Homo sapiens: one gene and its partners. The protein of the gene in region 6 purifies or fractionates together with the protein of the main gene of each other region. This does not show direct contact. Each region holds a gene or a part of one and is shown on either strand. Other genes may lie near its edges. The genes, in order: SPIN1, LYZ, MYO9B, SMARCA1, MYO1C, GRK5 and TOR4A.

Evidence for each region.
Region 1: the proteins of GRK5 (region 6) and SPIN1 purify together in Homo sapiens (affinity purification with mass spectrometry, with the first as the bait; one large-scale study listed by BioGRID). This does not show direct contact.
Region 2: the proteins of GRK5 (region 6) and LYZ purify together in Homo sapiens (affinity purification with mass spectrometry, with the first as the bait; one large-scale study listed by BioGRID). This does not show direct contact.
Region 3: the proteins of GRK5 (region 6) and MYO9B purify together in Homo sapiens (affinity purification with mass spectrometry, with the first as the bait; one large-scale study listed by BioGRID). This does not show direct contact.
Region 4: the proteins of GRK5 (region 6) and SMARCA1 purify together in Homo sapiens (affinity purification with mass spectrometry, with the first as the bait; one large-scale study listed by BioGRID). This does not show direct contact.
Region 5: the proteins of GRK5 (region 6) and MYO1C purify together in Homo sapiens (affinity purification with mass spectrometry, with the first as the bait; one large-scale study listed by BioGRID). This does not show direct contact.
Region 7: the proteins of GRK5 (region 6) and TOR4A purify together in Homo sapiens (affinity purification with mass spectrometry, with the first as the bait; one large-scale study listed by BioGRID). This does not show direct contact.

Annotation. Positions count from the first base shown.
Region 1 is NC_000009.12:88,391,444-88,394,943, reverse strand, and holds part of SPIN1 (spindlin-1), read right to left. Parts: intron 1-3,500. UniProt on the Homo sapiens protein: Chromatin reader that specifically recognizes and binds histone H3 both trimethylated at 'Lys-4' and 'Lys-9' (H3K4me3K9me3) and is involved in piRNA-mediated retrotransposon silencing during spermatogenesis.
Region 2 is NC_000012.12:69,347,055-69,351,180, reverse strand, and holds the start of LYZ (lysozyme C precursor), read right to left. Parts: upstream 2,801-4,126; 5' UTR 2,773-2,800; coding exon 2,637-2,772; intron 1,074-2,636; coding exon 909-1,073; intron 1-908. UniProt on the Homo sapiens protein: Lysozymes have primarily a bacteriolytic function; those in tissues and body fluids are associated with the monocyte-macrophage system and enhance the activity of immunoagents.
Region 3 is NC_000019.10:17,194,277-17,197,776, reverse strand, and holds part of MYO9B (unconventional myosin-IXb), read right to left. Parts: intron 3,222-3,500; coding exon 2,304-3,221; intron 1-2,303. UniProt on the Homo sapiens protein: Myosins are actin-based motor molecules with ATPase activity. Unconventional myosins serve in intracellular movements. Binds actin with high affinity both in the absence and presence of ATP and its mechanochemical activity is inhibited by calcium ions.
Region 4 is NC_000023.11:129,485,491-129,488,990, forward strand, and holds part of SMARCA1 (SWI/SNF-related matrix-associated actin-dependent regulator of chromatin subfamily A member 1), read right to left. Parts: coding exon 3,447-3,500; intron 1,648-3,446; coding exon 1,528-1,647; intron 1-1,527.
Region 5 is NC_000017.11:1,482,687-1,486,186, forward strand, and holds part of MYO1C (unconventional myosin-Ic), read right to left. Parts: intron 3,446-3,500; exon of another isoform or gene 3,369-3,445; intron 3,075-3,368; exon of another isoform or gene 3,026-3,074; coding exon of another isoform or gene 3,008-3,025; intron 2,889-3,007; exon of another isoform or gene 2,439-2,888; coding exon of another isoform or gene 2,436-2,438; intron 1,618-2,435; coding exon 1,462-1,617; intron 1,040-1,461; coding exon 924-1,039; intron 374-923; coding exon 175-373; intron 1-174.
Region 6 is NC_000010.11:119,448,571-119,452,070, reverse strand, and holds part of GRK5 (G protein-coupled receptor kinase 5), read right to left. Parts: intron 1-3,500. UniProt on the Homo sapiens protein: Serine/threonine kinase that phosphorylates preferentially the activated forms of a variety of G-protein-coupled receptors (GPCRs).
Region 7 is NC_000009.12:137,276,227-137,280,525, reverse strand, and holds the start of TOR4A (torsin-4A), read right to left. Parts: upstream 2,801-4,299; 5' UTR 2,619-2,800; intron 1,874-2,618; 5' UTR 1,837-1,873; coding exon 565-1,836; 3' UTR 1-564.

The DNA of each region.
Region 1 (3,500 bases), on a different chromosome or scaffold from region 6:
CAGCTACTCAGGAGGCTGAGGCAGGAGAATGGCGTGAACCCGGGAGGCGGAGCTTGCAGTGAGCCGAGATCGCACCACTGGACTCCAGCCTGGGCGACAGAGCGAGACTCTGTCTCAAAAAAAAAAAAAAAAAAATACATTAAATAAAAAACTAAAGCAATTCTTAAAGGAAGAATTTCAGGCAAACAACCCAAATTAATTATCAAACATATAACATAATCAGAGAAAATCTTTTCAAATGGCCTTCCAAATTAGAATGTCAACTGTACATGCTTATGTGGATATATTTTAAGGAAAAAACCATAACCAAACATAAAGCTACAGTTGCTTATTAGTGTTATTTTCAAACTACATTTATACTGTAAGATAATGCAATTATATTAATGTTGCTAAGAATGTAAATTTTCAACGTTAGAGAAAAAAGGATAAGCTCATAGTAAAAACTCTGTGATGTTAAATTCGAACTGGAAATACCAATATAAAAATCAAAATCTGTATGCTTCCCATGGCTGTCCAATAAAAGCATGGGCATTCTAACAGTAAGAACATATAACACCCAGATTTCTGTATCTAAATTCTAATCCTCAATAAAGCAAGCTGAAAGACTCGGTTGATAGGTATTTGGCAGGAAAAGCACAAAGTGAACCTTAGACATCTTGTGTCAGAAAGCAAGAAAAGCTTCAGAGATTACGTGTCATGTCAAAGGAAAGAGAACCAGGTTGAAAGGACCTCAACATGTCCAAGTTGTGAAAAGCTAAGGAAAAACAGTGAGTATTTGATTAAAACACTGGATAAAGCCACACATGGTGGCTCACACCTGTAATCCCAGCACTTTGGGAGGCTGAGGTGAGAGGATCACTTGAGCTTGGGAGTTTGAGACCAGCTGGACCAACAAGGTAAAACCCCATCTCTACTAAAAATACAAAAAATTTGCCAGGCATGGTGGTGCACGCCTGTAATCCCAGCTGCTTGGGAGGCTGAGCCAGGAGAATAGCTTGAACCCGGGAGGCGGAGGTTGTAGTAAGCCAAGGTCACACCACTGCACTCCAGCCTGGGTGACAGAGCAAGACTGTCTCAAAATTTAAAAAACCAAAAACACACATTGGATACATAAAAATCCATGGGTCTACAATGATGCTAAAGAGAGAAAGAAAAAAGTAATTCAAACCCCTCCCTCCAAAAAAAATCAGCTCTGGAGAGATGGCTGACGCCTGTAATCCCAACACTCTGGGAGGCCGAGGCGGGCAGATCACAATGTCAAGAGATCGAGACCATCCTGGCCAACATGATGAAACCCCCGTCTCTACTAAAAATACAAAAATTAGCTAGGTGTGGTGGCACATGCCTGTAGACCCAGCTATTCGGGAGGCTGAGGCAGGAGAATCGCTTGACTCCCGGGAGGTGGAGGGTGCAGTCAGCTGAGACTGCGCCACTGCACTCCAGCCTGGTGACAGAGGGAGACTCCGTCTCAAAAAAAAAAAAAAAAAAAAAAAAAAAACCCAAAAGCAAGAAAAAGGACATTCTTTTCTCTCCTTATTGCCTGTGTCAGGTTAAGCAACAGTAATTCAAATATATGATATGATTTGTTAAATCATTTGCAGACAGGCCCAAGCATAAACAACTACAAAGAAATATAACCTAGTTTTAAAAAAAAAATTGCCTATTTTGTTAACACGCTACTATAACATCTCAAATGGTAAAAAGATGCCTTACTAGTCTTTTCATGTATTCTCTCACCATTTGGATAAAATAATATTTACATTGAGTAAATTCTTCCTCCTCCCCTCCCTTCAGGAAAAAAAAAAAAAAAAGCACATTTAACATAACATTAAATATTCTGAGTTCAGACCAATACCCCATGCCTTAAATGACTTCACCAGCTTCTCTAACAGGCTAGACTCTGGAGATTAAAGATCCTACATGGGCAGGTTCCTCCAACTCACCTTTCATACTGTTCTAAAACACAGGTCCAATCCTGCCCCTGCTTTCAATGGTTTCCCTCTGCCTACAAATTCAACACCAACCACCTTAATGTTACATGCAGAATTTAAAAGGTGGCCCCCAAATTCATCCCTAGACAGATCAGCCATAGGAAAGAAACTACAGGTGGTGTAGGCAGTGGTGACATCATCATCAATATCAACTGGGCATTTACTGTACACCAGGAGCCTATGAAACATTTTACTTCATTTAAGCTCACCCCTGATGAGGTAGGTGTTCTCGTCCCCTGCTATACATAAACACACTCACAAAGGAGGATAGATAGAAAATAGTAGCTAGGTAGATAGGTAGAAAAAGAGGGAGGAAGGAAGGAAGGAAGGAAAGAAGGAAGGAAGGAGGGAAGGAAGGAGAAGAGAGGAGAGGAGAGGAGACAGGTAACAAGGGGCTAACTTTTGGCTGGGATTGAAATCCCCGATGGCCTCTTTAACTCCTCTCATGCCTCTGTTCCTGCTTTCCCCTCCATCCAGATGTCTTTCTTCTCCCATTCTGATAATCTATGGAATCACCTTCTCTTCCCAGATACCTTCAGCACAGAATTCCCTCATTATATGCATGTGTATCTCCTCTATCAGACTATAAAGTCTGTAAGGATACATCTGTGTTTATATATTTAGCCAAACACGACTTGTTCTATAAAGGGTTTACGGCAATTTTAAGGTCATGAACAGGCTCCCAGTAAAAACATAATTTAACATTAAATTGGACTGAATACTGATGCACAACTAAGGAAACTGTTTACCTCAACATTAAAAAAATGCTAATAACTACAGCTAAGTTCAAAAGTAGAAAGGAGAAGGAAATCAACATCTACTGGCGTCAGCTGCTGTATTTCAGGAACTGTACTGAGAACTCTATAAATCCATTTCATGTAATTCTCAGAACAGACTTACACCATAGGTTTTATCCCAGTTTATAGGTAAGGAATTCAAGGTTTTAAAAGGCTTTGCGGGTTGGCTCTTTCACCAATATTTGCTGGAGTTTGGGTTTTCAGGCTCTTTCTGGGTCATAGATTTCTTTCCAGGATACCTTGTAGCAATTTGAGAGCTGGCATCACTTCCCGCTGGGTCCCAAAGATGCAGGAAGAGCTTAGTACTGTTGACTAGACCGCGGATGGACCCACCACAAAAGTTTAACCCAACCTTGACCCCAGAATCTTCACAAATGCTCAGTGAAGAAAATCCCCAGGACGACTCGGGCCTCTCTTCTGCTCAGAGATGTCAATAAAGAACTTCAGTAGCGTGACTTTCAACCCTAGTACCAAATTCCCTTCCCTTCTACCAGAAGATTCATCCCAACAACTGGATAGAAGAGAAACGACCTTCCAGGACATCAGAGATGGCTTGCCTCAGGAGTAGAAGTAAGAACGCTGCTACCTATGCAGAAAGGAAGTATGGCAAAATTGAGATACCTGTTACTCAACAGATGTTCTTGGCTTGAAAAACTAGTAGACACTGGGCCAAAGGGAGAGTTCAGAATGAATCAAGAAGGGAACCATTCAA
Region 2 (4,126 bases), on a different chromosome or scaffold from region 6:
TATTTACAATAATAATTCTACAGGAACTGTATTTTTTGAAGATGTAAACTAAAGAATTTAGAAATGGAATATCATCATGTTCCTAATTCACTTAAAAGTCTCTCAGCAGTAGCCAGGTACAGTGGCTAACGCCTGTAATTCCAGCACTTAAGGAGGCTGAGGTGGGAAGATTGCTTGAACTCAGGAGTTCAAGACCAGCCTGGGCAACACAGAATTTGCCTGTACTAAAAATTTCAAAAATTTGCCAGGCATGGTGGTGCACACCTGTAGTCCCAGCTACTTGGGAGGCTGTGGTGGGATGATCACTTGAGGCTGCAGTGAGCTGTGATGGTGCCACTGCACTACAGCCTGGGGACAGGGAGACCCTGTCTCAAAATAAAACAAAACAAAACCAAACAAAAAACTCTCAGCAAAAAAAAAAAAAAAAAAAAAAAAAAAAAAAAGGCATAGAAGAAGCAACTATGGCAAAATGTTAACAACTTTTAAAGTGCATAATGGGCATATGGCTGTTTATTATACTAATGTCTCTAATTTTCTATACATTTAGAACATTTCATAAAAAAAAAAGTAAAACAATTGAAAAAGGACCATACAACTAAATTATCCCAAAACCTCCCCAAAGTAAGCAGGAGCAATGGCATTGTTCTGGACAAAGCATCAGTAAGGCCATTGACAGTAAATTAATAGGTCATTCCAGAAACTTCTGTATATTAAAAAACATCAACCTTTTATGATACCACTTCTTTAATTTCTTACTCAGGGAATTATGAGGAAAATAATAATGACTTTCTGGAAGTTGAGATGTAGTTTTTCTAGGTCCCTCATGAACCTTTCAAGGCTTTTTCATTTGTATTGAGTCTCAATTCTTGTAAGTATAACCAGATTGGTCAAATATTAGCTTGTCTTACCACTGCAGGATAAATGACAGGCATTAACTGCTCCTGGGGTTTTGCCATCATTACACCAGTAGCGGCTATTGATCTGAAATATCCCATAATCAGTGCTTCTGTCTCCAGCATTGTAGTTTGTAGCTCGTGTGTTGTAACCACTCTCCCATTTGGCCAAACACATCCCTGAAAAGAACTTATTTTTAGTAATAAACAGCAACACTAAGTGACTTATACTCTATAGCAAAATCAGTTCTACTTAGCTACTTCTATTTTACTGATTTGTTTTATAAGTATAAAGATTTACTTATAAAATATCTTAGCACTTTAGTGTTAAGATAAGGGACTTGTAAGAGAATCCTTTTGTAATGCAAATCATCTTGTAACACCAACGAACAATATAACATACTTTTAAAATATTAAAATACATGTTTGTTCCATTGCTTTTACCCTTCCCGTGCTCCCATCCCTCAGGCAACATTCAGCCAAGAACAGAAAAATCAACAGAGCTGTTGAGTAGATTTTGTAAATTCATAGCAGATACATAGGCTGATGGAAAAATGCTTTTTTTAATCAGAAAAACATAAGGATTTTCTGATAGAAATTTTCTTATAATATCTAAAGGTGAATTTGGATATCAAGTTAGAATCTTGAAAACAAGACTATTCCGTGATTTCATCCCTTCACTCATTCATTCAAAAATAGCTATTGAGGGGAAATGTCTGAATTCAATCTGAAAACTACAGAGATTATTACATCGACAACTATGTACTAAACTATAAAATAACTTTTCCTCATGGCACATCTTGAATTGTGTGGGAGAAAATGAAAGATAGTTAATCAAGTAGAGTAGATAAAAATAATAAAACATTTCATGCTGAGTTTCTGGGATCCTATACAAAGAGTGACTGAAGGGAACTAGGTTCCTACTGCTCTTGTGTAGGGAATTCAATATATTCTTTAAAAACATCACTGTTAAAAATCCCATGTCGGCTGGGTGCAGTGGTTCACACCTGTAATCCTACCACTTTGGGAGGCTGAGGTGGGCAGATCATTTGAGGCCAGGAGTTCAAGACCAGCTTGGCCAACATGGTGAAACCCCATCTGTACTGAAAATACAAAAAATTAGCTGGGTGTGGTGGTACACACCTGTAGTCACAGCTACTCAGAAGGCTGAAGCACGAGAATCACTTGAGCCCAGAAGGCAGAGGTTGCAGTGAGCTGAGATCATGCCACTGCACTCCAGCCTGGGCCACACAGTGAGACTGTCTTTAAAAATAAAATAAAATAAAATAAAAATAAAAATAAAAATCCCACATCACGGCAGGGGACTTGAAGACAAGAAAAATACTGCATCACTCTAGGCTCTCAGAGCCCAAGTTCAAAATGGGAAATAACTGGAGTCACATACCAAGGACTTGAGAGAGCTCTGCCAGGTCCTCAAATGTATCTTTCAGTCAGCTTACATGTGCCATTGAATCTCAGGCACCCAGCAAACTTCCTAGCACTAGAACAGTACAACAGGTCCTGTTTTACTTAGAATGGAATTTTCCCCTGCCATGCCCGTATTCCTTTATCGGGTATCTCTGGTTATAAAGAACCAAACTGATGTTTTTAGCCATTGTAAGTATACAAACCCACAAAGAAATAAAACATCTATTCACTCAAAGCCCCTTCTTCTTCTTCCTTCTCTCCTAGTGTCTGTTCCATACGTAGCTAATTCTCTGGAATTATGGAGAGTAGACTTACAGTTTGCTAGGCTGATTCCCCTGTAGCCATCCATTCCCAATCTTTTCAGAGTTCTGGCCAACTCACACCTTTCAAAGACCTTGCCCTGGACCGTAACAGAAAGGAGGACAAGCCCCAGAACAATGAGAGCCTTCATGTTGACTGCTAGGTCAGAGTGCTAGGCTGACCAGGGTGAGCTGGCCCCAGTATTTAACATCTTTTAACTTCCTTCTTCCCCTTGTGGTTTGGGGGCTCCACCCTTTCAGTTGTGTGGAAAACAGGAACTGTCTATTGATCCACTGACTCTAAAGAGATTTTTTTAATGCTTGAAGAGAGATATGCTGATGTCCTAAGAATTAGTCTACAGGAAAATAATGAAATGGAATTGTTTAAAGTACTGGCTCTGGAAGAATTGGGGCATAGCACTACTTCCAAGACAGGAACTTTCTTCTGTTTGATTATGAATTTGAGCAATTATAAAGAAAAAAATGACTATTTTGTGCAGCTTAAAATGAGCTGTGATTTTTGAGTAACATTCAATTTTGTGAAATTGTTTTGTATGCATTCACTTTTTTATATTTATCTTTTTTACTTAAAATTATTTTACATATCTTTTCCACAAAATGGACATGACACATGTGCCTGTTGTCTTAATGGGTGTATAGTGTGACACCACGTTGCTCAGCTAGTTTCTTACTCTAGACTCTTTTTGTTACTATAGCAAATTTTTTATTATTATAAATCAGTGTTTTACTATTATAAATAAGGTTCATGTGAACAACTTTACCAACTACCTTTTTTTTTTTTTTTTTGAGATGGAGTCTTACTCTGTCACCAGGCTGGAGTGCAGTGGCGCAATCTCAGTTCATTGCAACCTCTGCCTCCCGGGTTCAAGCAATTCTCCTGCCTCAGCCTCCCAGGTAGCTGGGACTACAGGCATGTACCACCATGCCCAGCTAATTTTTGTATTTTTAGTAGAGACAGGGTTTCACCATGTGGCCAGGATGGTCTGGATCTCTTGACCTCGTGATCCGCCCGCCTCGGCCTTCCAAAGTGCTGGGATTACAGGTGTGAGCCACCACATCCGGCCTACTTTACCAACTACTTTTCACAATACTTTGCCTCCCCTTTCCATATTAGAACATAAGGGGTCATTAGAAAGCAACAGCATTTTAAAAATAAAACCTACCCAAACATATATCCAACTAAATGCTACCTTTGAAAATAGCAATCTCAGGAGGCTGTGCACAGCTTTTAAAACAATGCTACCAGAACTCAAAAAGAACTGCACTTCTGTATCTGCCTAAGAGGACAGATTCTGAGCCACACAAAGTGTCATCACTTTGTAGTTACCCTTATTTTTCATCAGTGGCCTCTAAAGATTACCAGATTTGGTTTTAAATGACAGTTCAAGGACCCTGTTCAAAAATCAAGAATAATCTCATTTTTCAGGCTAGGCCTAATTTTGATTCTTCAATAATAAATAGGGCCAGGTGCAGTGGCTCATGCCT
Region 3 (3,500 bases), on a different chromosome or scaffold from region 6:
AACATGGCTTTTACTGACTAGAGTGAGTCAGTGGCATTTTCTTGTCTTAGTGGTTCTTGGGTTCTCACTTGGGCAGTTCTGCCCCTGCCAGGGGACACTTGGCAATGTCTAGAGACAGTTTTGGTTGTCACCACTTGGGTGGGGGGAAAGGAGTGGGTGGGTACTTCTGGCCTCTGGTGAGTGGAGGGCAGGGATGCTACTCAATACCCTACAGAGAATGGTCTCCACCCCAGAGAGTGAGCCAGCCCCAGATGTTGAGTGTGGAGGGTAGGAAACCTTGCCTTAGCCCAAGAGACCCTGCCTGCCTGCCCATCTATCTATCTATGTATCTATCTATCTATCTATCTATCTATCTATCTATCTATCTATCATCTATCTATCCATCCATCCATCCTTCTACTCATTGACTCATTGTCTCTATCTTCCACCCATCCATCCTCTTTATCTGCCTTCCATCCATCTCTTCATCTGTCATCTCTATCTATCTTTTTTTTTTTTTTAGACGGAGTTTTGCTCTTGTTGCCCAGGCTGGAGTGCAATGGTGTGATCTCGGCTCACTGCAACCTCTGCCTCCCAGGTTCAAGTGATTCTCCTGCCTCAGCCTCCCGAGTAGCTGGGATTAGAGGCATGCGCCAACACATCCAGCTAATTTTTGGTATTTTTAGTAGAGACGGGGTTTCGCCACGTTGGCCAGGATGGTCTCAAACTCCTGACCTCAGGTGATCCACCCGCCTCAGCCTCTCAAAGTGTTGGGATTATAGGTGTGAGCCCCCGAACCCGGCTCTACCTATCTTCTACCCATCCGTCCCTCCATCATCTCTATCTTCCTCCCATCCATAATCTACCTATCATCTATCCATCCCTCCATCCATCAACTCTATGTTCCTTCCATCTCTCCATCTCTATCTTCCAGCCATCCACCCATCCTTCTGTCTGTCCATCCATCCATCCATCCACCCACCCAGCCATCCATCATCTCTACCTATCTTCCATCCCTCCATTCATTGTCTCTACCTACCTATCTTCCTTCCATCCATCTATCGTCGGCATCTATCTTCCTTCTATCCATAATCTCTACTTTTTTTTTTTTTTTGAGACGGAGTCTCATCTCTGTCATCCAGGCTGGAGTGCAGTGACTTGATCTCGGCTCACTGCAACCTCTGCCTCCCAGGTTCAAGCGATTCTCCTGTCTCAGCCTCCCAAGTAGCTGGGATTACAAGCATGCGCCACCACGCCCAGCTAATTTTTGTATTTTTAGTAGAGACAGGGTTTCACTATGTTGGCCAGGCTGGTCTCGAACTCCTCTCAAACTCTTGGCCTCCCAAAATGCTGGGATTACAGGCATGAGCCATCGCGCCCAGCCTAATTTCTACCCATCTTCTATCCATCCATCTCCCCATCATCTGTATCATCCATCCATCCATGCCTCTATCCATCATTACTACCTGTCTTCTATCTATCCATCCCTTCATCCATCATGTGTATCTTCCATCCATCCATCATCTATATCTGTCTTCCATTCATCACCTCTATCATTTTCCATCCATCCATCCCTCCATCATCTCTATCTTCCTTCCATCCATCCTTCCATCATCTCTATCTTCCATCCATCCACCCACCCACCCACCCACCCACACATCCTTCCCTCTCTCTCTCTCTCCCTCCCTCCCTCCATCCATCATCTATCGATAATACTCCTGGCATGTGGTAAGTGGAGGCCAGGGATGCTGCTCAACATCTTATGATACACAGGACAGCCCCCACCGCAGAGAATGATCTGGCCCCCAATACGAGCAGTGGGAGGCTGAGCAGGCCTGCTGCAGGGAAGGCCTGTCTCCTCCCTGATTTCTTTCCTTTGGTCCTGCAGGCCCTCTGGAAGAGGGAGCTGGAGATTCCAAGTCACTGACACTTGGCTTACTAAGGCTCAGGCAGAGCAAGCCCCTGCTCCTTTAACCCCGAGGAGTGCAGTTAGTCCTGTTCACCAATTAGAAACCAAGGCCCAAGATTTCTGGGCAGCAGGGACCTTGACCTGAGGAGCCACCTCTCTCAAGGCCGGGGCCTTTCTGTGTGAGCACAGCTCCTTCTGGGGACCCCTCAAGGCTCCAGGTCCCAGCCTGGGCCCTGGCTGGCTGCCTTGTCTTCACTTGGTCTTTAGCATGTCCTGCTCGTCCTCCTCCCTCAGGCCTCCCGCACACCCACTGGGCATGATTACACATGTGTTTCCAGGATGTGTGGCACTGCCCCTGGCCTTGCCCACCTGGCCTGGACCCTGGTGCTCAGACAAAAGAGGGTGTGGGGCTTACTCTGTGGGCGTGAGGGCGGCCCCTGTGGCCCGGTGTCTGTCGCTGAGGTCCAGGGACTGGCTGAGCATGGCACTAGGGCTGGCGGCGGCCACCAGCTTCTTGCCCCGCCACAGTTCCACGGCGCTGGCCAGCCGCTCGGCGTCCAGGTACCGCTGGATCTGCGTGGAGCCTCCGGGGCTGTCGGGCTTTTCCTGAACCCTTGGGCTGCCACATGGTTTGCTCTTGTCCTCGGGGGTCTCGGGGGCGCTGCCAGGGGCCGGTGGGCTGACCCTGCTGTCCAGGGCCAGGCTGGTCGGCCGCTCCAACTGGCCAGGCCTGGGGCTCCCACTGGGCAGCGTCTTCTCAGTTTCTTCAGAGACCTTGCCAACTGCCATGGCCTGGGGTTGCTCTGTGGGCTGCTTTTGAGATGTGTTCTCAGCCTCCGTCTCTACGACTAGAAGGGTTTCATCTTCTCTGCTCTCCTTTTTGTCTTCCAGGAGACTCACCCCTTGCTCCTGGGTGACCCTTCTGGAAGGTTCTCTGAGGGCACTCTCCTCCTTGCAGGACTGGATGTGTTTGTTCTGGAACTTGACGTGCTCCAGCCCTCTTTGCCGACGCGACTCACGCTTCTCCCGGCTGCTGGGGACTTTCTCGTGACTTTCAGCCGCCACGGTTTTCTGGGGTGGGAGAGTCTTCTCTGGGCTTGGGGCCTCCTTCTCAGGTGAGGAGTGCTCTAGGGGGGACCTGTCACTTGGCTGCACCTCAGGCTCCGATGCCAGGTGCCCGCCATCCTCCGCTGGCTCCGGCCCCTGCTCAGCTACCTGCTGCCCTCCAGCCGCCTGACCCTGTCCGCCCTCCTCAGCACCTGCTCTTGCGGCTTCCAGGGCTTCCCTCTCCTTCTCTTCTGCCTTCTGCTTCTCCGAGATCATCTGGCTGAAGCTGGAGTGAGGAAAAAGCAGACAGCTGGTTCAGAAACAAACACTCCCTCCACCTCCCACTGAGTTCCGATGGGACCCCCAGCCTGCGGGCTGCAGACGGGGCTTCGCCTGTGCCCAGTGGCCCTGAGAGATGCTTCTGGAAAGCAGGAATCTCCTCGATCAGGAAAGGAGGCTGAGGGTGGTGCCCCCTCAGTGTCACAGATACCCCTGCCCTGCGTCTGCCTGGCTGCCTTGTTAGGGGAGAGGACCCTTGTTGGGGCTGTGGTGGGTGGGTTCTATT
Region 4 (3,500 bases), on a different chromosome or scaffold from region 6:
AGCTGATGCTGGAACAAATTAAGACTTTTGAGGACCATTGGGATGGAATGATTATAATCTGCAATGTGAGAAGGGCATGAGATTTGGGAGGCCAGGGGCAGAATGCTATAGTTTGGATATGTTTGTCCTCCAAATCTCACATGGAAATTTGATCCCCAGTGTTGGAGGTGGGGCCCAATAGGAAGTGTTTGGGTCATAGGGGCAGATCTCTCATGAAGGGCTTGGTGTAGTCCTCGAGGTAATGAGTGAGTTCTCTCATTCTATTAGTTCCTGACAAAGAGCCTAGCATTTCCCTCCTCTCTCTGGTACTGTCTCTCTCTCTCTGTCTCTGCCATGTGGTCTCTGCACACACCAGCTCTCCTTTGCCTTCTGCCATAAGTGAAAGCAGGCTGAGGCCCTCACCAGAAGCAGATGTTGATACCATGCTTCTCTTACAGCCTGTAGAACCATGAGCCAAATAAACCTCTTTTCTTTATAAACTACCAAGCCTCAGGTATCCCTTTACAGCAACACAAATGTGCTAAGACAGTAGATATACCAGTTACCCTGATTTGATCATTACACATTGTATATATGTAACAAAATATCACTCTGTATCCCATAAATATGTACAATTAGTATGTGTCAACTAAAAATAGAAGGAAAAAATAATAAAGTCTATTTTTTTAAAAATGCACTGTGGGATACTAGATTAGATCCCCTGGAATCTAACACCAGTTAATTAGATAATTAACCAATGTCCTTTTCCTGGCACAGGAAAGGACATTAGGAGAAAAACTGGTGTTAATTTCCTGGTTGTGATCATTATACTAACATGTAAATTGTTAATATTAGGGGAAGCTGAGTGAAGGCTATAGGTTAGCTCTGTACTATTTTTACAACTATTTTGTAAGTCTAAAGTAATTTAAAAATAAAAAGTTTTAAAATCTCAGCCTTAATTTCAGTTTAAAAAACAAGATAAATAAAACCCCCATTTCTTCAACAGACCACATGTAACAAAGTCCTTCTGCATTTAAGTAACTAAATGTTACTAATATTATTATTCATACAGTTAACATTAAGTGTCAGGCATTATTCTAATAACTTTATGAGTATTAACTCATTTCATCATCAGAATCCCTCTATGATGTAACTATTATAACCTCCATTTGATAAATGAGAAAATTGAGAATACCCAGAGTCACTTAATTAGTGACAAGAGTTGAGATTTCAGCTCCAGAATTCAGGAATTCAACCTCAATCCTACACTGCTTCTCAATAACAAAAGTAGTACTAAGCAGTAGTAGTAGTAGTAGCAGCAGCAGCAGCAACAGCAAAAATTGATGATGATGATGATGATGATGATGACGACGACGACGATAAACCAATAAAATAAACGAAAGATATACCTTGCATGAGATATTTAGACCTATATCAAATTTCACTCTAGAGCAGGGTATTATAATAGGTAAGTGCCAGTGTTATTTTATAATTGTTATGGGGAGAAATGCTCATTTGAGGGTCTAATGGTTGAGAGTAAAAAGTTACCTTCTGTTTTTCTCTATAATCTTCTCCCTCAAATTTGTATAAACTTTGTTCAATGTCCATTCTAAAATTTCTTAGAGAAGACTCTCCCATTTTTTGCAGGCGTTCATTCATCTCTGCAGTCTAAAGGTGAAAACATTGAAATGAGAAAATTATCACTGAATTACTTGTAAAAGTCTGTGGATTCTCTACCTTTTTAATAGTCAGGTTTTGACATGAAATATCCAGTCTGCTAATTTACAAGGTATGAATGCAATGCTAACATCAAACCTGAAGTGCAAATTTTACTTGCCCAAGTATTTCAAATATTTAAATGGTGCTTCCCAAGTACTCTCACTTAGGCTTTCTTTAAAATCTTTTGTCAGTGAAGTTGTACCCACATTATAATTGCTCTTGCATAATTTAAATGGGACAAATAGCTAAAGCTAAGAGAAAGGCAAAGATGGACTAAAAATACACATTTTGCATACTGGTATGAAACATATTAACACAAGATCATTTAAAATGCAGGTTATTACCTGAACTACAAAATTCTTCTGAAAAGCAAATTCAACCAGTTTACAAGATATGCAACAAACATAGTAAAATACACCATGGAGATGAAATCAGCAAAATCCACACTGTGATTAACTCAAAAGGCAAACAACCTAGTCTTTTCATCAAATAAATTACAAGGAATACAATACATGGCAGGAGAGGGGGCCTATAGATTTTAAAAGATAGAGATGAAATCTCAACCATGGCAATTTGTATTTTGATTTGCATTCTGATTTAAAAATGAAAAGAAAACTTTTTAAGTATAAATATTTACGACACAATTGTAAATTTGAATACTAACTGGATATTTGGTGTTATTAAAGAATTATTGGGGTTTTTCAGGTGAGACAATGTTATAATGATTATCTTTAAAGAGTCCTTCTATTTTAGAAATACACAGTGAACTATTTACAGCTGAAGTATGTCTGAGATTTGCTTCAAAATAATCCAAGGAGGGGAAAGATAACTGGGGATATAGACAGAACAGGACTGGTTGATGGTTGTTAGAAACAGGTGATAAGTACTTCGGGGCTCATTATACTACTCTGTCTACTTTTACTTATGTTTAAAATTATCCATAATTTGTGGAGAGGGGAAGGTGAACTAAACACAAAATTACAATATTCTGAAACAACTTATTATGCTTTAACAAATAGTGATTTAGCATTTCATGAAATGTTTTATAAAAGATTTTCAATTAACCAATGTATCAGTAGATGATTTCTAGTCCAGTGCAAAAAAAAAAAAAAAAAAAAGATTATAAAAATACAGTCCTGGTCAGGCATGGTGGCTCATGCCTATAATCTCAGTGCTTTGGGAGGCAGAGGTGGGAGGCTCACTTGGGGCCAGAGGTTCAAGATCAGTCTGGGCAACACAGCAAGGCCCTGTCTCTAAAAAAGAAAATTAATTAGATGTGCATGTTGGTACATGCCTGTGGTCCCAGCTACTCAGGAGGCTGAGGTGGGAGGATCACTTCAGCCCAGGAGGTGGAGACTACAGTGAGTTATCATTGCACCACTGCACTCCAGCCTGGGTGACAGAGCAAAACCCTGTCTCTTTAAAAAAAAAAAAAAAAAAAAAAAGCATTCCTTATACATGTGATTAAACACAAAATTTACTTGGCTTTTAGATATAGTATTTTCAATAAAGCATTAGATATAAGGTCACTCAATTTTAAACTCTGGTTCTTAGTCTTTCTCACCAAAAAAAAGTTTTAAAGCCTTAATCTACCCCTGGAAATAGATCTACAAGTTGTTGGAGAGAATATGAGCTACCTGAAACATGTAGATAATGCAGATAAACATGTACAATGAAAATATAAGTATGCTGAAGTATGTTGATATTAAAACAATCCAGCATGAAAATAAAATGCTATTTTAACTAACCTTCTTTTCCCCTCTTTCCAGAATAGTTGTAATGTCTTCATCTGTCAACTCACT
Region 5 (3,500 bases), on a different chromosome or scaffold from region 6:
GCACTGGGCTTCTCTCCCTGCCCTCCCCTCCCCTCCTGCACTGGGCTTCTCTCCCTGCCCCTCCCCTCCCCTCCCACACTAGCCTTCTCTCCCTGCCCTCCCCTCCCACACTGGGCTTCTCTCCCTGCCCCTCCCCTCCCGCACTGGCACTGGGCTTCTCTCCCTGCCCCTCACCTCCAGCACCGGGTTGCTCTGTAGCAGCCGGTCCCGCACGGCACCTCCGCGCTCGGGGGCTGGGCAGGTCTCTGCATAGAACTGCAGCAGCCTCTTGGTGGCCTCGGTCTTGCCTGCCCCGCTCTCCCCAGAGATCATCACAGCCTGGTCCCGACGCTCCGTGCGCAGTGCTCGGTACACAGTGTCCGCCACGGCAAACCTGGGGCGGAGGCTCGTCAGGGAGTTTGGGGAGGGGGGCCAAGCAGAGCCCCACGAGAGTCCCGCTCCCACATCTGGGTGGAGTCCTCTTGTGGGAGTCGAATACACCCTTGAGGATGGGGACTGGGGGTCCCTCACAGGTGTGGGCCATGGGAGATCCGTCATAGCTGAGAATGGGCGTCACCGCCAGCGGGAGGACTGAGAGGCTCTCACAGGTGGGAGGCTGGAGGTCACTTAGGTGGAGGCTGGAGTCACTCACGGGTAGGGCTGGGGGGGGTCTTTGCAGGTGGGGTTCAGAGGTCACTAAGATTGGGGGGCCACTCCCAGTTGGGGAATAAGTCATGGGTGTGAGTCGGGGTAGGGACTGAGTCCCACCCACATGGAGCTGAGTTGCGACATTCATCTCTGGTCACTGGGGGGCAAGAGACTGTGGGATTCCTCACAGATGTGGCGCGGGACGCCAGGATCATTTCAGAGTAAGGTAAGGGTTGGGCGGGGTCACCTCAGATGGAGACAGAGGGGTCGCTCCCGGAGGGGCTGGGGTCACTCACAGGTGAGGGGGCACTTCATAGAAGCTGACGCCACGGTAACGCTCCATATGCTGCCGGCTGTAGATCTGCAGGTCCCGGTAGGGATTGACAGAGACCAGGACGGGGCCAATGTAGGTCTGGGATCGGGGGAAGAGGGTCCAAAGTTTATCCCGGGCCAGGTGCGATGGCTCATGCCTGTAATCCCAGCACTTTGGGAGGCCAAGGTGGGCGGATCACCTGAGGTCGGGAGTTCAAGACCAACCTGACCAACATGGAGAAATCCGTCTCTACTAAAAATACAAAATTAGCCGGGCGTGGTGGCGGGTGCCTGTAATCCCAGCTACTCGGGAGGCTGAGGCAGGAGAATCGCTTGAACCCGGGGGGAGGAGGTTACAGTGAGCTGAGATCGCGCCACTGCACTCCAGCCTGGGCAACAAGAGTGAAACTGTCTCAAAAAAAAAAAAAAAGTTTATCCCGGTGACCCTTGGTGTCTCTTTCCCCTCCGCTTGCCTGTGTCTGTGACCCCAGCACCCCTGCCATCTCCCCACAAGGGCCTCACGTAGATGAGATTCTCCCGAAATCGCCGCCGCAGGTTCTCGATGAAGGCGGCCTCGCTGGTGAAGTTCTCCAGCAGCACGAAATCCTGCACCCCCACCCGGTCACGGGCGGTGAGCGCACTCTCCATGGTCACCCGAACCCCGTCACTGCCCAGGGCCTGCAGAGAATGGGCCACAGAAGAGGGTCAGAGTCATCGGGGGCGGGGCAAGGCCACTTCCCTGCGCCTGTGGGACTGAGAGGGAACGTAGGGGCTTGTGGACTCCGGGCTAGACACGGGACATGAGCATGACGGGTGCGGGGGGCCTGGGTGCTGAGGGCCTGGGTGTGGTGGGCCGGGTGCGGAAAGCCGGGTGTGGAGGGCCCGGGTCCCAGTGTGGCAGCAGAGGGATCACCGAGGCTGCGGGCACAGAACAGAGACAACATGAACCACTTGGGACTCGGACACAGGGCATGGACGCAGGCAGGACCAGAGGGCAGAACCCGGGAGGTGCTGGTTTTGGGTGGAGAAAGGGGGGGTCACAAGAAGGAACTCCTTGAAATAGCAGAAAGACTGCTCTGTTGAGCTTGGACCAATCCCCTCCTCTCTCTGGTTCCTTCCTCCTAAAGGAGGAGGAGTTGAGTTAGACCAGGTGACCTCAGGTCCCTCAGCTCTGAGCCACGTGTGACAGGTGCTTTGGAGGACAAATGGCTCAGGGTCAATTCTGCAGGCAGGGTGGGGCCGTCTCTCCCACCCAGACCCACCCCCACCTCCACCGGTAGAGCGTCGAGCACCAAGCAAGAGGTTACTCCCAGACTACACCAGAGGGGTTCCCCCAGAGGGCCTCCCACCCCAGCTGGGCTCAGCCACCCACTCCAGAACGCGGGGGAGGCCCTCCCTCGCATGGCTGGGGCCACTCCCTTTCCTCCAGCTGCTGGGCTCCCCAGGCACCTCCTCCACTGAGAGTCCTGAGAAGCCTCAGGGGATGGGGGCTTTACCATGGAAAGCCCAGCTGCCTCTGGGTCCTACTGGAGGGTGGAGGGTGGTGCAGGCTGAGCAAGACCCTCGCCCCACAACCAGGGCTGAGATGGATCCCTCTTCAAACAGGGTCTCAGGGCTCCAAAAAATGGACACCCAGAGTATCCAGGGTCAGAGAAGAACAAGGTGGTGGTGATTGGGGGTGGATCCCAAAGGGGCCGCCGGTGTCCTCTGACCACGAAAGGCCCAGATTTCTGGCCGGGGGCCTGCCCCTCCCAGGCTTGTCCTCACCGCCCCGCTCCAATCCCGCGCCGAAGCGGCTGCCAAATCCGGCCGCGGTCCCCGCCCCCTCGCCCTCGGGTCAGGGGTCTCCGCGTTCTCAGGCGTCCCCGGCGGCTCCTCATCCGGCCCCGGGTCCGAGCGTCCCGCGCCGCCCTCCCCGCCTCGGCCTCCTCCCCCTGCAACTTCCCGGGACGTTTTTCCACCCGGAATTCCTGGGCCGCGCCCGCTTCCTGGCGAGGCCGAGGCGACGCCGCGAGGTGGGGAGGGACGCCCGGGACCCCCCGCCCTGCCCCGCCGCCCCCAGGCTCACCGACGCCCGGTAGCGCATCCTGCCCGGCCGGCCTGGCGCCCGCTCCGCTGCCCGCGCTCCGGGTCCCGGGCTCGGCGGCGGTGGCGGCGGCGTCAGCGAGGGAGGGCCCGCCCCCCGCACCGCCCCCACCCGGGCCCCTGAAGCGCGGGGCTTCCCCGGCCTCCCCCGCCTCCCGCGCGGCCGGGCTGGGGTCCCCTCCAGGTGGGGTTGGTGGAGGTGGGGGTGTCGGGGCGGGGGGTCCGCGGGCCGGGGGCGGGGGCGGGCTCCGCCTGAGTCAGGTTTTCCAGGAGGGACGCCGTTGGCACCAGGGTGGAGCCCGGAACCCGCGCGGCCGCCGCGTCTACACCGACCCGGAACTCACTTCCGGGCCTGGGACTACACTCCGCGGCGGGCCTGGGCGCTGGGCGGGCACCGAGGCCTGCGGGTCCCAGAGGAAGCGGGATTTTCCTCCCCCAACCCCCGAACTCGAGTCCCGGGAAAGTTAAAAATAGAA
Region 6 (3,500 bases):
CTGGGGGCCTGCTCTATGCCAGGGCAGAGATGAACCTGGGTGGACCCTGCCCTCTAAGAGTTCAAGGTTGGTGTGGGGAGGCTTCCCAGAGCCTCTGGAGATGAGGCCTTTATAGAGACAGCCCCAGGTGGGGTGTGAAGGGATCCCCAGACCTGGTGACACATCTGTCACTGGAGGGTAGAGGCTACCTCCTGCTTATAGTCTCCTGACATTTGGCTAATACGAAGGTTGTGAATCAGTGCACCGGCTCAGCATGGGCTCCGCCATGCCAGGAAGGTTCTAGCAATGGTCTCAGGGCTCGGCACTTTCTGGGACTCTCCCCTCCAGTCTGCTCTGGTCTCCAGCTCAAGGCTCAAGGCCATGCTGTCCCCAGCAAAGCAAACCATGGGCCCAAGTGCACGTGGACGGAAGCAGGGGTGCGGGCAGGGGTGTCCAGTTGCAGAGCTGCGACCCTTCTCTAGTTCCCAAAGCCCGGGGTGCACGCCACCGTGGAACTCAGCGGACTTTTAGCTGGAAGCAAGACCACATCATTCACATGCTCAGCGCAGAATGAAAACGCAGGGTCCATGTTCCACATTTAGAATTTTAAGATGGCAACAGAGGGCACTGAGCCAGGTGTGGGGACCCAGGGTGCCCTAGGGGGTGCCAGGTCAAGCTCACGAAGCTGGCCCTGGGTGGCTTGCAGAGGAATGTTAAGAAATGAGCGTATTTTAAAAATCTGTAATGGAACAGAAAGTTACCTGGCACACCCAAACCCCTCTTTCATGGCTATTATTTCCTTGGAAAGGTTTCCTTTTAAAATACATTGATTTTTATTTTAAAAAAAGAGTCAATGGAAGTGAAAAAGATGATGTCACTCACAGTGCTCGTGGTTTAGGAATGTGGCAGCAGCCCCGACAGTGGTGTGGGGATGGGATGACTGTGGGGGGCTGGCATGGATGACTGTGGGGGGCTGGCAGGGACGACGGTGGGGGGCTGGCAGGGACGATGGTGGGGGGCTGGCAGGGATGACTGTGGGGGGCTGGCAGGGACGACTGGGGGGGCTGGCAGGGAAGACTGTGGGGGGCTGGCAGGGAAGACTGTGGGGGGCGGGATGACTGTGGGGGGCTGGCAGGGATGACTGGGGGTTGGCGTGCAGCCTGGGGAGGGCCAGTGGGGAAAAGGCAAAGTCCCCAGCTCACAGCGGCTTCGCACTCCAGGGCCTGCAACCTTTGCTGACCTGAGGCCTCGGATGCCAGGAACAGAGGCCCTGGGCCACAGGGTACACGGCTGAGGCAGGAGGGCACCGGTGGGCTGCTCTGTGCACCTTGTCAGGCTGTGCGCTTTGCGGGGCTCTGCTACCTCATCCTCCTAATGCCCTGATTCGAAGTGGCCAGGGTCACTCCCAGGGTGACCAACTGTCCCTGTCTCCCCAGGACACAGGACTTTCAGTGCTAAAAGCAGGACAGTCCCAGGCAAAGCAGGACAGTTGGTCGCTCTGACCCTCAGAGCCGCCTCCTTCCACATGCTGCTTCCAGGGCCTGGAGCGCTTTTCTCCAGCCATGCCTGGGTGCACGCACGGAGGCCCCGCTACTCTCCCATCTTCCCGGAGGCTGCCTGTTCTCTTCTCTTGTGACTCGTATTTCTACTTCTATTTAAGGGGTTTTGCTGACACCCCTGCTCCTCTTCAGACTGGAAACAACCAACTGTTTTGTGTGCCATGGGATCTCCCTTGGGGCCTGGCACGGGACCTGGAGTGTGCTGGAAGGTAGAGGAATAGCTCCAATGCGATGACTAATCTCAGCCCGTCACCATAGCAATAGGTAGCCCAGAGGCCACAAGGATGGCCACCCGGGTTCCAAACCTTTGCCACACCCCCAGTCTGGATGCCCACATCCTCTCCAATTTCGGACATCAGCCCAATGGCACAACCGTGATGTTCATGCACTCAACACTATGTGGTTTCCTGGAACACCAAGGAGTGGCCACTCCCAAAGCCCTTGGCACTAAAAACAAACAACAAACAACACACTCCTTGCATGTGGCACTTCCCATAATAGTGACTCTCAACCCTGGCTCTACGCTAGAATCAGCTGGGGAGGTTTCAAAACTCCTGAAGCCCGAGTCTTACCCCAGACTCCCTGGGGACTGCATCCAAGGCGAGTGTTGTTCATGCTCCCCAGGCGGTTCGCCAGGCAGCCAGGGTCGAGAGCAATGCTGTGATTACCATCCTCCCCCTGCCTGCTCAAGCTCATCTGCAGATTGAGTTTGCAGCATTCAGTGACTTTCACTTTTTATTTTTTGAGATGCAGTCTCGCTCCGTCGCCCAGGCTGGAGTGCAGTGGTACAATCTCAGCTCACTGCAACCTCTGCCTCCTGGGTTCAAGTGATTCTCCTGCCTCAGCCTCCCAGGTAGCTGGGATTATAGGTGTGTGCCCCCAAGCCTGGTTAATTTTGTATTTTAGTAGAGATGGGGTTTCACCACGTTGGTCAGGCTGGTCTCGAACTCCTAACCCGACTGCCTCAGCCTTCCCAAGTGCTGGGATTATAGGCATGAGCCACCGTGCCCGGCCTACTCTTTATATTCTCAGTGGCCCCCGTGTTTCTCCAAAAAGCATTCCCTGATTACCCATCACACTGATGCCATCCCTGGCCAGACGGGGTCTGTGGTGTGGTTGCCATGGACACTGATCCGCACCTAGCAGCTTCCCAAGCCACCTTCTGTCCCAGAGGACCAGGGAATCCCCATGTATAGGGGGTGCCAGAGTTCCAAGGACGGTCCCCACCTGCCTCCACTCAGGGCGGTACTGGTAAGTGATAACCACTGGTTCTGGGAGAGGGGGACGCAGAGGCCCTGATTTGTAGCATTTGCAAATTGCTGCTGTGCAGATGCTACCACCAGATCTACTGTAAGCTACCGACGCAAAGCCATTGGACACGGAATTGGGAAGAGAGGTGCACATGAGCTCTCTGGAGATGCAGTCATTCGCCTGCAGCACACTGCTGCTCCCACGGCCTCCATAGTCCCCGGCCCAGTCCCCCTGCCAGCAAGGGGTCATCCGCGGGAGCGTGGCAGGAGCCGAAGCACAGCAGGCCTTCCTGGCTTCTGACTCCCTGACTTTAAACAGAGCAGGCCCCGGAATCACAGCACGTATCCCGCACAGATCACCCAGCCTCTGCCTGGTCTGCATCTCTTGGGCCTCTGATCCAGCTGAGAGCTCATGATTTATAGACCATGTAGGGGACTTTCAAGGACAATTCTACCTCAGCTGGAATCTTGCCTCACACACCGACTGGGGGACCTGGGGACCTCCTGGGAAGATGCAACTCCCTGCAATGTGAGCTGCTGGGGGAGGGGCCTCTTATGTTTCTGCCTGGCCCAGAACCTGGCGTCAACAGTAGTGCTCGATGCATGCATGCTGGTCAAGATGAACTGAATGTAGTGGCCGTCAATGCTCTTGAAAGCATTCCCCATTCAGTTCTCATTTCACCCTCAAATCTCCCAGGCAGGTGGGAGGCAT
Region 7 (4,299 bases), on a different chromosome or scaffold from region 6:
GCCTCCGCTCCCCTCCCCTTACTGTCAAGACACTCCAGCCTTGAGCTCCTGAAAACACGACCTGAGTGAGGGGTGGGGTGGGTGGAGAAGGCAGCCAGAGCCCCAGCACTGTCATGGTTGGCTGTGGCCTCCTCCGGGGTCATCTCCAGGGGGGCCGGAATGAGAACCCCACTTCAGCACTGAGCAACACGCGACCACCCCCAAGAGGCGGGGTCACGTCCCAGCTGTGTGACCCCGGGAATTGTTGGCCCTGAGATCATCCTTGTACCATGGGAACCCACCTCTTGGGGCCACAGGGAGAACGCACCAGACCATGCCTGGGACGCCCAGCAGGGCAATGGGCAAGTTTGGGAGGGAGGTGGCTGCTGTCCTGCCGCCCCCAGGGACAGACTCCGGACTCTGAGGCGGGTGTGGACCTGGAAGCAGAGCTCCAAGCTGATCCGCACCCACCAGCCGGGCAGCCACAAATTCACTAGAAACCTCAGGGGCCTGCACCAGCCCACAAGGTCCCTGGTCGCCCTCCTACTGCCGCCATCAACCCAAACGTCCCGTCCTGCGCCTCCACTACAGGAGGTTCACCGTGGCCACCACCTGCTTGCAGCCGGTGACGGCAAACTCGCGGCCAGCCACGCGGTAGAAGCTGAGCTGCGCGGCCAGGTTCTCCGCGCGGGCCTGGTCAGGAAAGAAGCCCTCACCCGCCATCTCGTCCCGGAAGCAGCTGACCACATCCCGCTTGTCCAGCAGCAGAAACGGCACGATGGCCGCGGCCTGCCACAGCGGATGCTCCCGGGACAGCACAGCCAGCAGGCTGGCGCGCAGGTCTTCTTCCGCCTGCGCCGCTGCGGCCTCGGCACTGCGGAAGCCGTCGGGGCGCAGGGGCAGCGCGCGGGACGCGTTCTGCAGCACGAAGCGCGTGACCTCGGCGCCACCCGCGCCACTGAGGAGCACGTAGATGGCGTTGTGGAAGTGGTGGGAGCGCTGCGGCTGCAGGAAGCCGTGCAGCTCGTCCAGCAGCGGCCGCGGCATGAGCTCCACGTCGTCCAGCACCAAGAGTGGGGTCTTCTCCTCCGCTTCGGCCCGCGCCACCACGTCGGCCACGCGCCGCGCCAGCTCCTCGCGGCAGTCCTGTGCGGCGCGCGCCTCGGGGCAGTGGTGCCGCGCATGGTATTGCAGCACGAGCGCGCTGTCCTCCAGCACCGAGCGGAAGTGGCGCGCCAGCAGGCGGCCCACGTGGCTCTTGCCCACGCCACTGGGCCCGTGCAGCGCCAGGAGGAGCGGACGACTGTGCACATGCGTGGCCAGGTAGTCCCGCATCAGCGCCACGATGCGCGATACGGCAGCGGGCTGGCCGAACACCGCGCGCTGCAGCGCTTTCTCCAGCCCGTCGAGGTCATAGCGCTGCGCGTTATCGTCCAGGTTCTCGATAGCGTTGAGAACTTGGAAGCCCACGATGGCGACTAGCAGCAGAAGGCAGCGCTGCGCGCGGCTCCTGTGCTCCACGCGCGGCCGATACTTGCGCGAGGTCTCCGGGTAAAGCACCAGGCGGCTGCGCCGGCGCTTCTTGCGTGGCGTCCTGGAGGGTAGCTCCGCGGGGCTGTCGAAGGTGAAGAACTTTGGCTGGTCCAGGTCCGCGCGCGGTGCCCGGGGGCTGCAGCCCGGCCTGGGCGCCCCGGTCCCGACGTCGGGCCCCCCACCCGGCTGCAGGAGGCGCCGTTTGCGTAGGACACACACCCGGCGGCGCAGGCGGAGCACAGCGCGCACGGGCGCGATCACGCACCGGCCCGAGGCTCGGGGGGCCGCGGCAGCAGGCTCCAGGCTGGGCTGGCCGCGGTCCATGTCGCAGGAACGGCGCTCCGCATACAGGTCGCCCTCCCTGCAACGGGAAGACGGGGAGGGTCTCTGGACTCCCGCCACTGCCCTTTCCCGCGGGCCGCCGGAACCGGTCCCCGGAGTGATCTTACCCCCTGGGAGTCCCGTGGGGTGCGGCCCGGGCTGCCCCAGGGCCAGGGGCCTGGTCGCGGCCTCGCCCCTCAGACCGGCAAGCGACCCCTCCGCCCCTCCGCCCCTCCGCCCCTCCGCAGGGCCCCGATGCAAATCTCTCGGGTCTTCCCATAAACGGCCGCGGGCCTTGAGGAAGTGGCGGGGTAGAGGCTTATCTGGTGGCCGCCCCGGCTTCCTGGAGGAGTCGTCGAAGGAGTCAGTGGCCGCCCAGGCGCCCACTGGGGTGAACAGTCACCCCCGGACCCTGCCCCCGCCCGCGGCTCCCACTGGACTGGGCCGTCTCCCAAGGAGGGGCCGCGGGAAGCAGAGGCCTGAGCGCCCAGGAGTTCAGAGACGCCCCCACACGCTCCAGAACACTTGGCGGGGGTCTGGCTGGAACTTATGATTTTGAGAATAGGCCCGGGCCCCGTCCCCAGGCTCAACCCAGGCCTCCCAGCCCCGACTCCAAAACTGGGGTCCTCCCAACACCCCTCCAGTGAACGAGCTGAGCAGTGCAGGGAGCCCCCCGGAGACTAGTGGAGGTGAAACGAAAAGATGGACAGAAAGAAGAGGCCGGTCGGAGCAAGAGAGCCACTGACTGGCAGGAACTGGGCCCTGGGCCCCAACCCACCCCCTACCTGCAGCTGGTCCACTGCCCTCAGCTCCGCAGGCCCCTGCCTGTGCCAGACGCTGGGGCCTGAGACTCCAAGCAGGAAATGCGCCTCCCAGGGCGAGGGGGTGGGCCAGGGGCCTCCTGGGCCAGCTTCGGCCTGGAGGGGCAGCGACACCTGTGGGTCCCCAGGGAGCGGCCGGCCGGAGTAGAGGAAGCTCTGGGGAGGTTTCCGCTTCTATGCAAAGGAAGTGAGTCAGGGGGTGCGGCCCAGGCGGGACTTGGGCTGGACGGAGGCGCCAAAGGGGGGAGGCCTGGCCGGCTTGCCCAGATCCCCTGGCCGGAGGTCACATTCCCGCTTCAGTTCTCTAGCGCTCAGAGCCCTCCTGGCTTGGTCAGGCTCAGGACACCTGGTGAGGCCGAGGGCCCCTGCTGCATGCTGTGCCCCCACCCTGGGCTCCTGCACCTCAGCCTGTCCTCCAGGGCCCCCACCTCCCCCAGGTTATCCCTTCCACCTGTCACCCCACACACAGGGCTTACAGCTGGGGGGAGGGGCTCCAGGCCCTGTGTAAGCAAGGCGGGAGCAAGGCAGCAGCACAGGGGGCGGGCAGGGTCCTCTGCCGAGCTGCATACCCCCAATCCCTCTCTTATTACTCCTCTCCCCGCTTTTTCATTCCCCTCCTGACCCCAATCGGGGGCCCCCCAAAGTGGGCTCATTGTCTTTCCTTTCCCCCTTCCTCCGTCCCCAGCCTGGAGCCCCCTGCCCAGGACAGGCCAGCACACACAGACGGAAGTTCTATCACGGAAAAAACCACGTGCGGCTCAGGGTCCCTGTGGGGGTTGGGGAACAAATTTAGAAACAACTTGGGCCGGGAGCCAGGAGCTGGAGCTCTGGGCCCTTCCCCCTGCCGGCCTGCCTAAAGGACCCTGGACTCCTCCTACCCTGGCCCAGCCTGGAAGCCGCCTTCCAAGGAGGGGCAAGGTGGCCGCTCCAGCCACACCAGTGCTGCTGGCATTCAGCTCAGGACCCCGCAGTCCCAGGGACGCCCCACTCCTCCCAACAGCCAGCCCGGGCCTGATGGTTCCAGCTGTATATTCCTCACACACTGCACCCAACCAGACAGGCTCCATCAGGGAAACCGGTCGTGGGTTGGGGGTTTCCATTCTCTCCAGGGTATGGGGTCCACCGGACTATCACGCTCCCCTCCAGGAGCCAGGCCTAGGGCTCCCCTCCCCTGTGCAAGGGGTGCTCGGGGGCCCGGATCCCCAATTGTCGAGGCCGCGGGGGCCGCACACACCAGGTGGAATGCTGGTGCTCTTTGGGCCCACTCCCCGGCCTCTGTGGGACCAGAGCGGAAGGAGGTTGGCTGTCCAGGCCCCGTGGCCCCAGCACGGAGGTTGGGGTCCTTTGGGGGCCTCAGGCTTTGAGTCTCGGTGCTTCTTCTGACACAGAGAGGACCCTGGAGGGGAGGCCCTCGGGCAGATGCAGGCTGACCGAGCCCTGGAAAACCTGCAGCAAAGCCTCTGCCCTGCCTCCAAGTGCACCCAGGGCTGGAGCTGCTTCTGCCAGAGGCTGGCCCAGCAAATCCTCAGGCCAGAGCCCTCTGCAGGAAAGGGACTCGCTCAAGGGGTGCCCCAAGACCTGGCCCTATGGGTCAAAGGTGAATCTGAGGCCTGGGCCAAGGCCTCACCCCCTGCACTTTCTCCCA